2 separate regions of the Homo sapiens genome follow, and region 2 is linked to region 1. The links come from fine-mapping of genetic effects on gene expression. A gene starts in region 1. The other region holds a variant in brackets. All regions are shown on one strand. Distances are between the middles of the regions. Region 1 holds the start of STAM (signal transducing adaptor molecule). Region 2 has its middle 19 kb from the start of TMEM236.

The links.
Region 2: its variant is fine-mapped to the expression of STAM in atrial appendage (GTEx, PIP above 0.99). The same link has a PIP of 0.9 or more in left ventricle.

What each region holds. Positions count from the first base shown.
Region 1 is chr10:17,639,322-17,647,659 of GRCh38, forward strand. It overlaps STAM (signal transducing adaptor molecule), which reads left to right and starts at 4,830. Exons shown (of 14, transcript NM_003473.4): 1 at 4,830-5,058. The coding sequence starts at 5,019. STAM-DT (STAM divergent transcript) reads right to left here and starts at 4,597. Exons shown (of 1, transcript NR_110370.1): 1 at 1,963-4,597. RefSeq lists enhancers at 3,784-4,432, 4,433-5,082, 4,505-4,574, 4,725-4,844.
Region 2 is chr10:17,728,566-17,736,903 of GRCh38, forward strand. No RefSeq gene overlaps it. Among named protein-coding and RNA genes, the nearest start is that of TMEM236, 19 kb to the right of the region's middle. RefSeq lists a silencer at 6,022-6,222. The variant T/G (reference allele first, on the strand shown) is at 5,113.

The sequences.
Region 1 (8,338 bases):
TCTAACCAAATTTCTGTTTGTAAGCAGAAGAAATGATTGTTGTTGCCCTAAGATGCTAAATTTGCAATTTGCAGTGCTTAATTTTTTTTTTTTTTTTTTTTGAGATGGAGTTTCGCTCTTGTTGCCCAGGCTGGAGGGCAATGGTGTGATCTCGGCTCACTGCAACCTCCACCTCCCGTGTTCAAGCGATTCTCCTGCCTCAGCCTCCTGAGTAGCTGAGATTACAGGTATGCGCCACCATGCCCAGCTAATTTTGTATTTTTAGTAGAGACAGGGTTTCTCCATGTTGGTCAGGCTGGTTTTGAACTCCCGACCTCAGGTGATCTGCCCCCCTCGGCCTCCCACAGTGCTGGGATTACAGACGTGAGACACCGTGCTCAGGTATAATAGACACCTGTAACACATACCATACCATTAAGTGCTATATAATAGAGGTAGTCAATTAACAAATGGATTAACAAATATTTATTATGTGCCTATTACTAGTCAGGTACTGAGTCAGGAAAGGCTTTTAAGAAGCAAAATCTAAGCGGAAGTTTAGAGGAGATCTAGGACCTAAATAGAGTAAGAGCAGGAAAAGCAGAAAGAGTTGCTTGTTTGAAGATACAAAAAGCATGGGGGCGAATGCTAGTAGTTCAGAAAGGCTAACGTAGAGGGTAGGAGAAAAAAAACTGCGAAGAGATGAGTTACTGAGAGGTCAGTTCATTAAGGAGGTAATGCTAAAGAAGGGGGGTTTAATCCTGAAGGTAAGGCTACTCTGCACACTTGTAATCATACAATTAATTTAATTTTTTATTTAATGACTATCTTCCCCAAAGGCTGTACTCCAAAAAGGCTAAATCTCACAGAGCTTTTATCCCTATAATTCCAGCATCTAAAATGTTACCTGGCACACGTGGGAGTTAATACATATTTGCTGAATGACTGAGTAACTGAAGAAACCCTATAAGAATTTTAAGGAAATGATATATAATCAGATTTGTGTATTAGAAAAATCATTCTGGCGGTAAGACAGAGAATGGTTTAGAGGTAATAGCTGTATTAGCTAGCTTAGGCTGCCATAACAAAATACCAGAGTGAGTGACTTATACAACAGAAATTAATTTTCTTGCCGTTCTAAAGGTTGGAAGTCTGAGATCAGGGTACCAGCATGGTTGGGTTCTGGCGAGGGCTCTCTTACTGGCCTGCAGACAGCTGCCTTCTCGCCACATCCCCACATGGCAGAGAGAGGGAGAGACAGCAAGCAATCCAGTGTCCTTCTTATAAGGGCACTAATCCCATTAGCAAGGCCGCAGCCTCATGACCTCATCTAACTCTAATTATCTCCCAAAGATTCTGTCTCCAAATACCATCACATTGGGCATAAGGGCTTCAATATTTGTATTTTTGAGGATACAATTCAGTCCACAGCTGTAGGAAAGGAGAAAAGACAGCAGGAGGTGAATGTAGTAACTTGCCTAAGAGATGAGGGTATAAACTAAAGTAGTGACAATGCAGAGGAAGAGGAAAGACTGAGAAATAGTAATCATTCCTACTTGGGCTGGAATTATTAAACTGTTAAAAACCTTCCTAGGATATTCTTTTTCCTGAATTTGAAAATTATAGACTTTTTCGTGTAGTAACTCTATTTGCACACCAGTTTTTTGTTTTTTGTTTTGTTTTTTTGTTTGTTTTTTTTGTTTTTTGAGACAGAGTCTCTCTCTGTCGCCCAGGCTGGAGTGAAGTGGCCCGATCTCGGCTCACTGCAACCTCCATACCCCAGGTTCAAGCGATTCTCCTGCCTCATCCTCCTGAGTAGCTGGGATTACAGCTGCCCACCACCACGCCCAGCTAAGTTTTTGTATTTTTGGTAGAGACCGAGTTTCGCCATGTTGGCCAGGCTGGTCTCAAACTCCTGACCTCAGATGATCCACCTGCCTCAGCCTCCCAAAGTGCTAGGATTACAGGCATGAGCCACCACACTTGGCCAGTATTTTTGTTTTTAATGTAGATGAATTTTCAAAATCAAACTGAGAATAAAGGGATATAACATTTAACAAACAACCACAGAATTTATTAAACATACAACATTACAGAAACATTTTAATATGCCATTGATATGTAGTCTTCAAAACGTTTTAAAAACTGTGGTAATACTAAAAGTGAAACTCATAGAATTTCAGTATTTTAAAGGGATAATAAGGGACGTTAACCACAAAATACAAAGCATTTCACTTTTTATGTTTGTCTTTTAAGTTAAATATTAAAAATTTTATATTTAAAAAATGTTTATTATTTATACAGCACATTAATCATCGAGACCCCCCTGCCCCCACAGCTAAAGTCATTCTAGGTCAGAATGCACGGATACTGCTCTCAATACTAGTATGTATTACTCCCAGTGCACACATATTGATAATCAAGGCTTGAACAGTTTGTGCCCTGGCTTATTGCTGGCAACAGAGTAATTCAGTCCGGAGTACAGAACATGTACAAATGCATTTTCATCAATATCTGGCTCTGATACACCCAGTCTGAGCCACCAATATCTGGCTCAGGCACTTATGATAATGGCCCAAGACACTGCTCAGGATCTTAAGGTAAACAAGTTGTCACCTAATTCTGTCAGCCCAGCAATCAAAGCACATTTTTGAGAGGGAATGTTCTGACTTCCGTATCAGTCGTGATATTTCCGAATAATTCTATACTTGTCATAATGAAACACAAGCACGCTTTTGGTATTGGCCCTTCAAAACATTAAGAAACTGGTGGTACCAACATACCATTTTTGACATTGTTGTATTTTAACATTTTTTCTGCTTTTGAAAGGAATACACGCTCATCATTAAAATATTTTGAATAATAAAATGCACAAAGAACAAAAACATTGTCTAGAATCTTGCCACTCAGAGACAATCATGTCATAATATTCTCATGTATTTCCTTTCAGATTTTTAAAATTGTGGGCATTTGTAATTTTATAAGGTTTGTAACTTCCTTCTGAAAACTTGTGTATTCAGATGTCTATGTAAATATGAATCTGTATTATGCACCTTAAATGGCTGTGTAGTTTTCACATCTTATGTACTATGATTTAACTGACCAGTGTAAATTACAGTGATCAGTTACACTTATTTAGTGCTTACTCTATGCCAGGCACTGTAATAAGCGTTTTGCTTGTACTAATTCATTTGATCCTCACAACCCTATTATTCCTGTTTCTTACACATGAGGAAACTGAGACACCAAGAGGTGAAGCAATTTGTCCAATCACTCAATGTGGGACATTTAATGGCTGGCAATGCTTTGATCCTTTAGACAATGTTGCCATGTATACCTTTGTTCATGTTTTAAAAGAATGTCTTTAGGATTAATTTGCCGAAATGGAATTGCTGGGTCCTAAGGTTTTAAAAATTTTTTTACATGCTTCCAAATATTTCCCTTAGGAAGATTATACAGTATTTACACTTCATCCAACAGTATGTGAGTGTCTGACTCCTCACATCCCTGATTCTTTGCAATTTTTTTCTTTTTTTGAGACGGAGTTTCGCTCCCGGGTTCAAACGATTCCCAGCCTCAGCCTCCCGAATAGCTGGGATTACAAGCGCGCACCACCACGCCCGGCTAATTTTTTGTACTTTTAGTAGAGACGGGGTTTCACCATGGCCAGGCTGGTCTTGAACTCCTGACCTCAGGTGATCTGCCGGCCTCGGCCTCCCAGAGTGCTGGGATTACAGGCGTGAGCCACCGCGCCCGGCCGATTCTTTGTAATTTTTACCTAAATGACAAAACATTATCTAACTGCTACTTTAATTTGCACATTTCACTTTTAGAGGTGGGACTTCATTTTTAATGAATTTTTAAGCACTCTTTGATTACTATGTATTAATCCTGTGTTGACATGTCAATATTAGTTTCCACGCTACATTTGGAGATGCCGTAATTTGCGGGATAATTTCCATTTACGTACAAGATGTGCTTACTAAGTTTGTTCCAAGTGGGACGCAACATCTCTAGTAGATGCTCCTTAAAACTTCTCCATCACACAGAGAATAATTTTTATTGGTTAACTAAACTTATAAGTAAAATAAATAAACCAACATTTTGGGTTGCTAGGAATCACTCACTGATCAACTTTTAGCTCCAGTTTTTTTCTGTTTTCTTTTTTTTGCTCAGTCTAGGGAGGCTATCTTGGGCTGTGAAAGACATGTCACCAACCATCACAGCTGCTGAGTGATTGCACGGTTAGTCAGTAGGTGCCAACGCCCTGCTAGAAGAGCTGTCTGCAGATTCCAAAGCCGGGCGTTCAGGGACTCCCGGGAAGGAGCCAGCGTTACCTCAGCCTCTCCGAGGGACACGCGCGCCCTGAACACTCCCCTCTTGGGATTCAGGCCAATTCGTTCAGCTCCCATGACTTCATCCGAGCAAGTTTGTCACCTCACGCAGCTAATTAAACTGTTTACCTAGAAGATGATCCAAAGGAATTTCCATTTCCTTCCAGAGGGAATACAAGGTTATGATAACCGAGAGAGCGAGAGGAAAAAAGGCGCACAGCTCGACCCGAACTCAACCTGCTTTCTTTCTCCTGGCTCTCCCAGTCACTCCTGGGGTTGTTAGTAGGCTTCAGCACGCCTGAAGGACCCCGTCCTACGGAGACTCCTAGCCAAGGGAAAAGCAGAAAACACAAGAACTAATTCCACTCTTATGTGTGACTAATTAAAAGAGGAGTCAGGCAGAGGGGACTCCCTGTTCAGCCTTTACCGATGGGGCAGGCTCGGGGCAGCTTTGAGACAGGCAGCGCCAAGGTCGCCCAGATTCCCGACAAGCTCCGCGCGGGGGCTTCCTCGGCTCCTTGCTGTTGCCGCCGCCGCAGCTGCTGCCGCGGTTGGTGGGGTTGGGTGAGAGGAGGAGCTGTCGCGGACCCTGTAGAGTCGGTCTCTGTTGCTCTTTTTGCCTGAGGAGTCTTCCATCCTACGTCGAGCTCTGACTCCCGTGCTGTCGAGAGGGAGTCCCCGGGGACACCTCGGCACGCAGCGGAGATGCCTCTTTTTGCCACCAATCCCTTCGATCAGGATGTTGGTAAGTGTTTTTGCCTCTCCCTGCCCATTCCTCACCGGACTGCACGCTCACTCTGCCAGCCCCTGCCTGCATTCAGGACCCTCGGGCCAGGGCCAAGGAAGAGCTCGCTCTTCCCCTTTCCTGAGGCTCCCTCCTTCAGAGCTGGGAGGAGGTTGAGGGCTTGGCGCATCCTCTTTGAAAGAAATGGGACTCATCCTGTGAAATGGGCCTTGAGCTAGGACTGTAGGTTGCCAAAGAACTGCTGAATGGGTTGGTGTAAAGGGCCTGGGAGGAGCAGCTGGTGTAGCATCTGGTGCAGGGACTGTGCTTCTGGAAGAACAGCGAAGGGCTTAAGGCGTATGTTGGCTAGATTAGGATTGTAAACCCTGTACCAAAAGTGCTTGCCTAGACAAATAAATGTTGAGCGTCTGGAACTGGCAGAATGTTTTAGGTAAGGTTCCTTAGAGGATTTTAAAATCTTTTGTAACGGTAACTGAAGGAGGGAGCTCTGGTTAAGGGTAGACTCTCAAACATGTTAGGAGCGATGAAGATGAAATACTTGGCAACGACTGAAACCGAATTGAGGACCTGAGCCTTTGGGATGTCTCTCTTAGGCTAGGTCTCTGCACTTTAAAAGGTGTAAAGAAGTGTGGAAGAAGTTGTTGAATCTGGAAAGAGTTTGAAATGCTACATTTTTGTTGTTTTCTGAATCACTGGTATTAGGTACTGATGATGTCAATTCAATAGGTTTGCTTTTGGTTTTTAATTTTATTTTATTTTATTTTTTTCTGACTTGAAGATAATAATTATGGGAATTTGAGTTTCCGGGGAGAGAATTTTGGTTTAATTTGAACGCACGTAGGAACTACCTTGGCACACAAGTGTGGAATGAAAGCAAGCCAAATACCATTTCCAAATCCCTTATGGCAGAATGTAATCATTACTGTGAATAAGGACAACCTTATGAATTTACTTGTCTTTGTGTATTTTAATTATGAAAGGTGGATGTTGAATTTTTCTTTTTAAACTCTTCCTTAGAGCATGTCACTGAAACTTGGAAGTTTATATAAGAGTAGAAAAAAGTTCACTCCTTACCTCTGCCACTTCTCAGCTCACGGTGAAATCATAGGCAAGTTAAATTCTTTGAGTTCCAGTGTTCTTGTCTTTAAAGAGGGGAAAACACATCATTCCATTCTGCAGTTAAATAATATGTCTAGAGGGCCTGCTACAGTACCTTTATGTGGTTGGCACTTACTAGATGCTACCTTTTTTGTTCCACCTTAAATGAGTGTCCTGAATCTTAGCAGTGGACAGAACCTTGGAGATCACCGATTATACTTAATGAATTGGAAAATTGCATTTAATTTAATAAGCAGTTAGCACACACTACAGGACACAGCAGCTCAGTGACATAAGAGATACAGTGATGAGCAAGGCCTAGTTGCTGTTCTCAAGCAGTTTTACATCTCACTACATGAATCTCTAGGGGAAATACTTAAAACAGCTTCTTAATACTTGCTTCTTCTGTTTACAGCACCTTTGTCTAGTTTTCTTGGTCCTGTATAATTTAGCTAGCAACTACCCAATCACCTTTATATTCTACTGACTTTGTGAACACATATTTGCATTGGATTCAGGTAAATTTCTTAATGTCAAACCCGTTCCTAGTAGCTGTACCACCCAGTTCAAACACAGGCACCTTCTTGCCTTTATGCTTTTGTCCTACGCTTATGCTTTCTTTTATCTTTCAACATATCCTTGTGTGTTAAGGCCAACTCAGAATCCAACTTGTTACACCTGAGTCATTTCCTGATTACTGTAGCAAAGGGTTTCTCAGTAGCAACGTTATTGACGGTTTGGGCCAGGTAAATATCTTTGTCATAGGAGTTTGTCCTGTGCAATGTAGGGTGTTCAGCCTTATCCCTGGCCTTTATCCACTAGATGCCGGTGACACCCAGCCCCCACTCATGATTTTAGAAGTCTCAGGACATTGCTAAATGCCCCCTGGAAGGACAAAATACCTCCCAGTTGAGAACCGCTGCACTAGTCCACTCTAATTTCCACCTTCTTACAAAATCCTCTAACTTATTTTAGCATTTTTGCCTTTACCGAATTATTTAGCATTCAAGATAGTTTTATACTCCTTAATGAGAGGTTGCTACATAGGAGGTGTTTAATAATGTTTGTTGAGTTGAGAATGTGTCAGTTGAGCCTGCCAGACATTATACTTCTTCAGTGTAGCAACATTGTTTTGCTCCAGAAAAGCTTACTTTTTAAAGTTGCTCAGGTTTTGGTATTGGACCAATTCTCTTCTCACAATCCTTGTATTGAAATATTACAAAAGGTTTATCTAAGAAGACCCCTCAGAGATTCCCAGTACATAAGCCTTGCACAGAGTCCAGTAGACTCATATTATTTTTTAATAGTATAACATATAGAATACAGTGTATAGAATACACTTAACAATTTTTTCTTTCACCATATCTACCAATGAATATGTCATAACATTAAAGTAACTCATTTGATACAGTTATTTATCACTTAACACTCGTATACATTTGCACATCTTCAAAATTAATTGTCTTCAGTCTTAATCTGAGGCTGAATCAGAAATTCACTGACTGATTTATATAATATAACATTTTTTATAAAGAGACACAATGCTGGTGATAGCTTTTCCCTTGGAAGAAACACCGAAAGATGTTACTAGAATGTGAGCTCTGTGAGGACAGGGATTTTTGTTTGATTTTTTCACTGCCGTATCCCTAGCTGTAGACCAGTTTTTGGCATGCTGAAGAACTTTCAGTAAACATTTATGGAATAAATGAATCTCATTTTGGACATTATAATTCAAGAGCTGAATTTAGAAGAAACGTAAAGATAACTTATTTCATCAAGTTTGTATTTCAAAGTCTCTAGTGACTTCCACCTTGCCAAATCCAATGGTCACTTTCTAGTCCATTTCTTTTTTGATCTCTTAAGCATTCCTCTTTGATATACAGTATTTTATTCATGGGATTTCAGGACACCAAACTTTTTCTCATTTTCTACTTAGCTCCTTTTAAATTTTTTTGCTTCCCCTTTTTGCAACTTCTAAAAGTTGAGTGCCCTGCGGCTCAGTTCCGGAGCCTCTTCTCTCCTTCCACTTTTTTTTTTCCCTTAGAGTATTAGGAAGCAATTTAGCTTAGTGTTAAGAATTCAGACTGGGGCCACACTGCTTGGATTCAGTCCCAGGTTTGCTGCTTACCGGTAGTGTGATTTTTGGCCTAGTTGCTTAGATAATCTGTGTCTCAGTTTCCTT
Region 2 (8,338 bases), 89 kb after region 1:
CAGACAGTCAAGTGGATTCTCTTCAGGTTAAGTTAAATAAGCATTCGATGTGGAAAGACCTAGTGGCTAGAATAGAATTACATTAGGCTACGAGTTAAATTACCGTGCTTTTGCTTCCTTCATTAAGATAAGTAGTAGAGTATTTCTACTTTTCTTCATGCCTCTCTTGTATTTGAAAAAGAATAATTTTCTTAAGGTTTTTAGCATGATGGAAGCAAATTACATTTTTATTTTAACTTTTCACCAACATTTGTAGATATTTAACTGTGCTGAGTTGTATATTTTAAAGGCAAGAAAAAGCCTTCAGATTTTTATTTGTCAGAGCATATTTGTTGAAACATGATTTTGTTTATGCTTGCAGTGGGGAAAATTTAACATTGAATAAGTGCCTGGTTTATGCTAAATGTTTGTTTTATGTACGTAGTAATTTAAAATGGTCTCGGGATTTTCTTCAAAGTTTAAACGAAGATAGTGGTATTAAAAGCTAAAGGAGCGGTGTTTAGGTAATATGTCTTAGTAGTTTTGTCGCAAGGAAATATTTTGAGATTAAAACTTTGAAGTGCTAGTGCTTGTTTTTGACCAAGTGGTAAACATCACTAAATTAAAACTGAGTAGCATGATCTGAATTACTGTTTAATGTCTTTTGAAAATGACATTTCTAAATATTCATGGCTTATTAATCAAATGCTGTTTATAATTCATTTGTTTCTCGATGTTTATTCCAAGAGCTGTCATTTGAGAAATGTAAAATGCTATACAGAATGCTTAAAATAAGAGAATTCTGAACATTAGGGGTGGTTTCCAGCAGATACCTCTTGGATGTTGGACTTGAATTGCTATAATTTTGATGAAATGATGCTCACAATAGAATGCAGTGAATCCTGCTGTTAATGCACAGTTGCCTTCTAAAAACCAGAATGCTCGGCAAAATTGTACAATAAAGAGGCCTTAGGATATATGGGGAAAACTGGGTTAGAGGCTCAGCAACCCAAAACTTCAACAGTGACATACCCAAGAATAAAGATAAGAATCTAATAAGAGCAGCACAGTTTGACACATGTTAAATGGTTAATAAATATGGCACTTTACCTTGGAAAAGACCTGAAGTGTGCCTGTAGAAGTGGGCATAGGAAGGGTTGCAGCTCATGAATTAAGGTGAAGCTGTGGAAGGAGAGTCAGCTGGAATCAGAGGGTGAGTTCTAATCCCAGGACTGGGTAAGTGTGACTCAGTACTTGCAGTGAACGGAGGCTGCTCACTCGTGTTCTGTGTGTTCCGATGCTGGGTGTGGTTTTCCACATTTCACCTAGCGTTGCTCCTGGATGAGACCATGCGTAAGCAAATTGTGAAATTTGCGTTCTGCTCATATTCCTTGTAGTTCTGCTCATATTCATTATTAATTTCCTGGAACAAGTTTGTGTTTTCCAAACAAATGTGATATCAATATTGACTTTAAAAGACACTTTGTGGTGGAGAATGAGTGGCTATTTACCATTTATTTCTACCCAGAAAAATACTCTTTGTACTTCTAAATGAATAAGAATTGTGGACAACCTCTAAGGTACAAAACTCTTTCTTCCCCCTTACCAGATCAGAAATGATCCCCACTGAACATGTAAACACATTTAGATTCAAATAATTATTTTATGTGTTTTGCTTAAAATGCTTAAAATCTGTGGGAAATTAAATGCCCTGTAAACCCGGTAAGAAAACACAAAACACATAAAGCCTGTGAGAAATTATATGCCCTACAATCCTGCCTCTCCCAAAAAAACAGGGAAAGAAAAGAAAATTAAGGATAAACATCACTTTTTGAGATAAGTGGTCACAGCCATTATGTCCTTAATTTATTTTTGTTTATTAACTGTTGATGGTTTGGTCTTCATTTGCTTAAGTGTTTACACTATTTTTAAGATACACTAACTGCCTTCTTAAGTTTTACATTTCATAGCACTAAATATGTCAGGCATTTATTTAAATATTTAAGTACCTTTAGAAATCAGAAAACTTGAATCCAGGACTTTTTACAAGTTCATTTTGATATCAACATGTAAACTTACTGAAAAATGAACAATAAGGAAACAGCAATGAGCCCACTCTAGTGTTAAAATTTAATTGTTACACTATGTTAGAAGATCTTTTGCACAAGTCTTCCCTCATTTACGTGTTCCACAAGCTCATTTGTAACATAGTAAGTTCTAGGAAACATTTTAGAACAATGCTGAATTTGGTGACTGGGATGCCGGGCTGGGGTCCAAACCCCATTTAATCTATGATATAACCAGAATGTAGCGTAGTGTTACTGGTATGTCTGGCTCATACCCCGTGAGTGCTTTGTAGGAAGGCACACCAAGTCCAAGGGAGACTGCCAGGGGCACATCTCCTGGTAGCCATCCGTGGGTTCTGAGGCTCCTCCACCTCCCCAGAAGCGGTGGGGCTTCTCATCGCTACCCTCAGAATACCTCGTCTAGGCCAGTATGCTGTCATCCTTTTTTGGGAGTCCCAGAGATAAATCTACCTGCCTTCTTTCCACTTTGACAGCTTTACCTGATCCATGGAAAGACTAAAGACAATTTCTCAGCTCCTCCTGTTCTCTCCCTGAAGCAACTCTTTGTGGTTTTCCAGTGGATTGAAGGCTGAACTGTAACGGATAGAGGCCCTAGGCAGGCTGATTTGATACCTGTTTATCATGATAATCCTTAAATTTGTTTTTTTTTTTTTTTTTTTCTGAGAGGCTACACCTTGTATATCCACCTGAGGAATCCGAAGCCCAACACCCATCCTTAGAGGCAGCTGAGCAACCAGTTACTGGAGCAGGGCCCTTGGTGGGGAGGGGGACAGGGGAAAGGAAGGTGGTCATTTTCCTCGCCTCTAAATGCCTCATTAAACAATCTTTTCATTGTAATGCTCTCCCAGGGTTTCAAAGTCAACGTTCATTTCATTATGATTTCCATTTCCTTATGATTCCATCAGTTTTATGGCATGTTTTATCTTAATTCTGCTGTAGGAAGCACCAAGGTAAACTAGGTAAACGTTTGCCCTGTCTTGCTTTTCATTCTTAACTGGGGGAAGATGCAAATATAGAAAAGAATGAGTATAACTAATCAGGAAAATATATTCTGTTTTCTTCTGGACATTTATGAGTTGGGAAAGATCCTGATGAGAAAAGAGATCTTCTGCTTTCCTGCTTCCCTGTCAAACTGTCCCTTGAGTGAAATAGGAAGCAAGGATAGGTGGGATGGCATGGGGCAGGCTGGGGAAGAGGAACGCCCACTGCCCAGGAGAGGCCTTGGTCCTGGGGGATTCTCCCTGTGTGTGGTCATTTCTTAAAGACTGCAGTGCTGTAGCTCCCCAAAACTTTCAGGAAATAAGATCACTCTGTGTGATTCAAATTGACAAAATAGTAGAGAAGGAACCAAAGTAGGAGATGGGTACCTTAAAGCTGAGGTTAAACTCTGCTGGCTTAGCCAGATCAGTCTGACATGTTTTATTTGGCCTGCAGAGAGTTAAAAAATGTTTTTTGAATAGATGATATTTTATGTCTACGTGATTTCCCACCAAAAATACAGACTTTTGGCTCCTTGAAAAATCCCAGATCTAGGCCGGGCGCGGTGGCTCACGCCTGTAATCCCAGCACTTTAGGAGGCCTAGGTGGGCAGATCACGAGGTCAGGAGATCGAGACCATCCTGGCAAACACGGTGAAACCCCCTCTCTACTAAAACTACAAAAAATTAGCCGGGCATGGTGACTGGCACCTGTAGTCACAGCTACTCGGGAGGCTGAGGCAGGAGAATGGCATGAACCCGGGGGGCGGAGCTTGCAGTGAGCCGAGATAGCGCCACTGCACTCCAGCCTGGGCGACAGAGTGAGACTGTCTCAAAAAAAAGAAAAGAAAAGAAAAGAAAAATCCCAGATCTAACAACGTGAGGCCTGTGTTCCCACAACTATCCATGCTGTCTCCAGTTTGCTACTGAGCCCTCCCAACTGTTGGGGAGAATCAGAGATGGACTCTTATTGAAGCAGTAAAGAGACATTTATTATTATTTTTTTGAGATGGAGTTTCGCTCTTGTTGCCCAGGCTGGAGTGCAATGGCACCATCTCGGCTCACTGCAACTTCTGCCTCCCGGGTTCAAGCGATTCTCCTGCCTGAGCCTCCTGAGTAGCTGGGATTACAGGCATGTGCCACCACGTCCAGCTAATTTTGTATTTTTACTAGAGGTGGGGTTTCTCCATGTTCGACAGGCTGGCCTCAAACTCCCAACCTCAGGTGATCCGCCTGCCTCAGCCTCCCAAAGTGTTGGGATTACAGGCGTGGGCCACTACGCCCGGCCTGAGAGATTTTATACAGAAACTATTGCAATAGGGAAAAGAGACTTGCGTCCAGAACTGGGCTCAGTGGAATACAGTAAAGACAGATGGGGACTTACAGCCAAGGGTGGAGGGGAGTAGTTCATGGTTGGAAAATCACTAAGAGGAGACCTCGGGGATAGAGAGGATTCTTGCTAAGAGCAGGCCAGGGTGATCAGATAGCCAGGGTGGAGGACGAGGGATTTGATGAGATCTCAAGGCAGGAGGGCTTCTCTCTAAACTGACCTAGCAGGATTCTTGCTAAAACTGGGCTGTGCAGGCCTGGCAAGGACGGTGGCCAAGATCGAAGCCTGAGAAGAGGTTTAGGAGGTCAAGGAGATCATCTTGTCACCACTCTTTTGCCTGACCCAGGGGATATTTGAAGCATTGCCTCCTGCTTTAAAGAGAGGGTGGATCTAAGACCTCACTGTTCATTTGGACTGTTGAGCACTTGGAATGGGCTGGTGCAATTGAGGGACTGAATTTTAAATCTGATTTCATTTGAATTAATTTAAACTTAAAAACCAGCAGTGTAAGCTATTTCATAAGCTGTTTTGGTGGGACTATATTTCATGGTAACCATTGCATCCATAGAATAGTATGGTAGTGTATGTATTTTTCACTGTTTTTTAATATGGGTGCTAGAAAATTTAACATTCCACACATGGTTGATGTTCTGTTTCTCCTGGACAGTACTGGACTGTGGCTTCTAGGACCTGGTCATGATTCTAAAGAATGTGTCTGTGGCAGACAGACTCTGGAGTG[T/G]GTCCCCATGAGCCCTTCCTTGTGACGTTCAGACCCTTATTTAATTCCCTTTCTTTGAGTATGGGCAGGACATGTGTCTTGCTGAAAACCAATAGACTATGGCAAATGCGATGGGCCATCACTCCTTGCTGACATTACGTCATGCTTTTGCCGGCAGGCTGAGCTTGGAAGCAGACCCTTCCCAAGACGAGCCTCCAGAGGAGAACCCAGCCCTGGCCAACACTTTGATCGCAGCCTTGAAGAGGACTCAGCTAAGCCCTGTCCAGATTCCTGGCCCACAGAAACTGTGAGATAATCAGTGTAGGTGGTTTTAAGCCACTAAATGTGTAGTAATTTGTTATGCAGCAATAGAAAACACGTGGCCCGGAAGGGTTGGGGCACATGGAGAACTATGGAAATCCAGCAAAAGGACGGTGCAGGATGGGAGGAGGGTGAGGACCGAAAAACTACCCATTAGATACTGTGCTCACCACCCAGGTGATGAAATAATGTACACCAAACCCCTGACACAATTTACTCATGTAACAAAACTGCATATGTACTCCCAAACCTAAAATAGTTGGGAGGAAGGCTGGGCATGGTGGCTCACGCCTGGAATCCCAGCAGTTTGGCAGGCCGAAGCGGGAGGATCACCTGAGGCCAGGAGTTCAAGACCAGCTTGGCCAACATGGTGAAACCCCGACACTACTAAAAATACAAAAATTAGCCGGGTGCAGTGGTGCACACCTGTAATCCCAGCTACTCGGGAGGCTAAGGCAGGAGAATCTCTTGAACTCAGGAGGTGGACGTTGCAGTGAGCCAAGATCACACCACTGTACTCCAGCATGAGTGACAGAGCAAGACTCCATCTCAAAACAAAACAAAAAAATGTTGGGAGGTGATAAAAAGGTAATCTAGCCAAAGGGAAATCTGCTGATGAGAGTGAATCTTAGTTGGTGTCACTTAAGTATCCTGGTCCCGTGAATAAGCTGTTTCTCAGATGCTGACTGATGCGGCTTTGGTGCTGATTAGCTGACTGTCCTTGGTGATGATTACTTTCATCCTACGTTGGTCTGCTTCAGGGAGAGGAAGTTCAGGTCCATCTGATTTTTGAAGGTAGACTCATTGTTTGTGAGAGTTAAGTGGCTGAGTCCAGGCCACTGGGGCATGGTTGAAGTTGGCCTTATCCTACTGCTTGCAGTGTGTTGGTGGTAGTTTTAATTAAATGTGCCATGGAACAGATTGGGCCCCAGCCTCTGTCAGACAGATTAATCATAGTGGCTGACGGATCGGCGTATGCATGGAAAAATTTGCCAAAAACTTAATGATGTAGAAGCGAAAGGTAGAAATGGTTGGGAGATAATCCTCCATAGTTCTTGCACATCTTGCAAGCAGAGAAAATGACAGTGCTTTTTCTAGGCCGTCTTTTCCAGGATATTTGTATGGCACACAACCTTGGGAGATACACATAGCGTCTCCTTCTGGAGCAAGGGACAGGTTTGTTTACATCCTTGGAAGATGGAGTTAGTGTCTCTCTTTAGAGCAAAGCGCAGGCAGGCTGACCGTGATGAAAGACTGAGAGATGGAGCTCAGGGCTCCTGTTTTGTTCTGCAGCTCACTGCCTTTGCCCTTGTCACTTGCCCTTCTTATCTTCCCTGTGCTTGAGGAACTGGCACAGGAAATGATACTCTGGCTCCTGCTAACGCTGTGAGTAGCGTAGTTCTTTGTCTTGGAGCCATGCCTCTGTGCCTTCTGTCAGCATTCCGGGAACTGTGGCCGGCTGACTTTTCAGCTTGCCTTCATAGGTCTTGACAGTTGTGTTGGATAGTAATAATAAAGTCAAAAAGTCGTTTCTTGTGGAACAAAAGTTAATCCACTTATGACTAAACCTTTCCCAGAATAGGGGTGGAAGCCCATGTTTTTTCATTCCCTAGGGTCAGGGGCAGGGATTTTTGTTTTGTCGGATAAAATTATTCCCATTGATTTATAAAATATGTGTATCAACAAGCAGATCTTCCTAGGAGTGAGCTGATCACACCTTTCGCAGCGGCTTACTGAATTCACCTTTTCTAGGCCTCAGTCTTATCTCTAAAATGAGAAAATTGGCTGGCTATGGTGGCTCGTGCCTGTAATCGCAGCACTTTGGGAGGCTGAGGCGGTGGATCGCCTGAGGTCAGGAGTTCAAGACCAGCCTGGCCAATGTGGTGAAACCCTGCCTATACTAAAAAAAAAAAAAAAAAAAAAATACAGAAATTAGCCAGGCATGGTGGTGCGTGCCTATAATCCCAGCTATTCAGGAGGCTGAGGCAGAAGAATTGCTTGAACCTGGGCGGCGAAGGTTGCAGTGAGCCAAGATCATGCCATTGCACTCCAGCCTGGGCAACAAGAGTGAAACTCCATCTCAAAAATAAATAAATAAATAAATATTTAAATAAATAAAATAAAATGAAAAAATTATATCTCTCTTAAAGGCCCTTCCAGCTACAGTGGCTCCAGGTGATGTGAAAAATACCATCCCTTTATTTATTCAACATGCTCTTATCTTGTCCTTACTATGGGACAGGCACCAGTCTAAGTGCTTTTCAAATAACTCATTGAAACTAGGATGATACTAATAACCCCCTGCCATAGGTGAGGAGACTGAGGCACAGAGAGATTAATTATTTGCCCAAGTTCATCCAGCAGGTGGCATAGCTGGGGTACAAACCTAGGCAACCTTTGTGCTTGTGTCCGCCATGGTGTGCTGTCTCCCATCTTGTCACTGAACAATTGATTCAGTCTCTGCTGTGTGGGAAGCCCCTCCTGAGAATGCTGGAGGCCACAGGGGAGAATGAATCAGGTCCTTGTTCTCCAGGGTCTTGCACTAATGGAGAATTTTGTATTTTTCTCTCTCCATGTGTGTGTGCGTGTCCCACAGGAGGACTCCAGATTAAGCATTTGCATGTAAGAATGTCTCATTAGAATGTGGAAGTCTACATTAAGTGTAGGTTAAAGAATTGGTTCCAGGTTTTTAGTTTGCTTATTTAAGATTGTTTAAATAAACCTTAGCGTTCTAACCTGATGGTAGTAAACTAGGTCAGACTTCTGCGGGGAACTATAGAGACATACTTGGTCCAAAGTTCTACCTATTCAATACCTAAGATTAATAAAATTGTGTATAGAAATTTAAGTAGTTATGCTGAATCACATCCCTTAAAAATGGTTTTTGTCAACCCTAATCCCCTTCATGTGTGTAAATTTAAGCTTC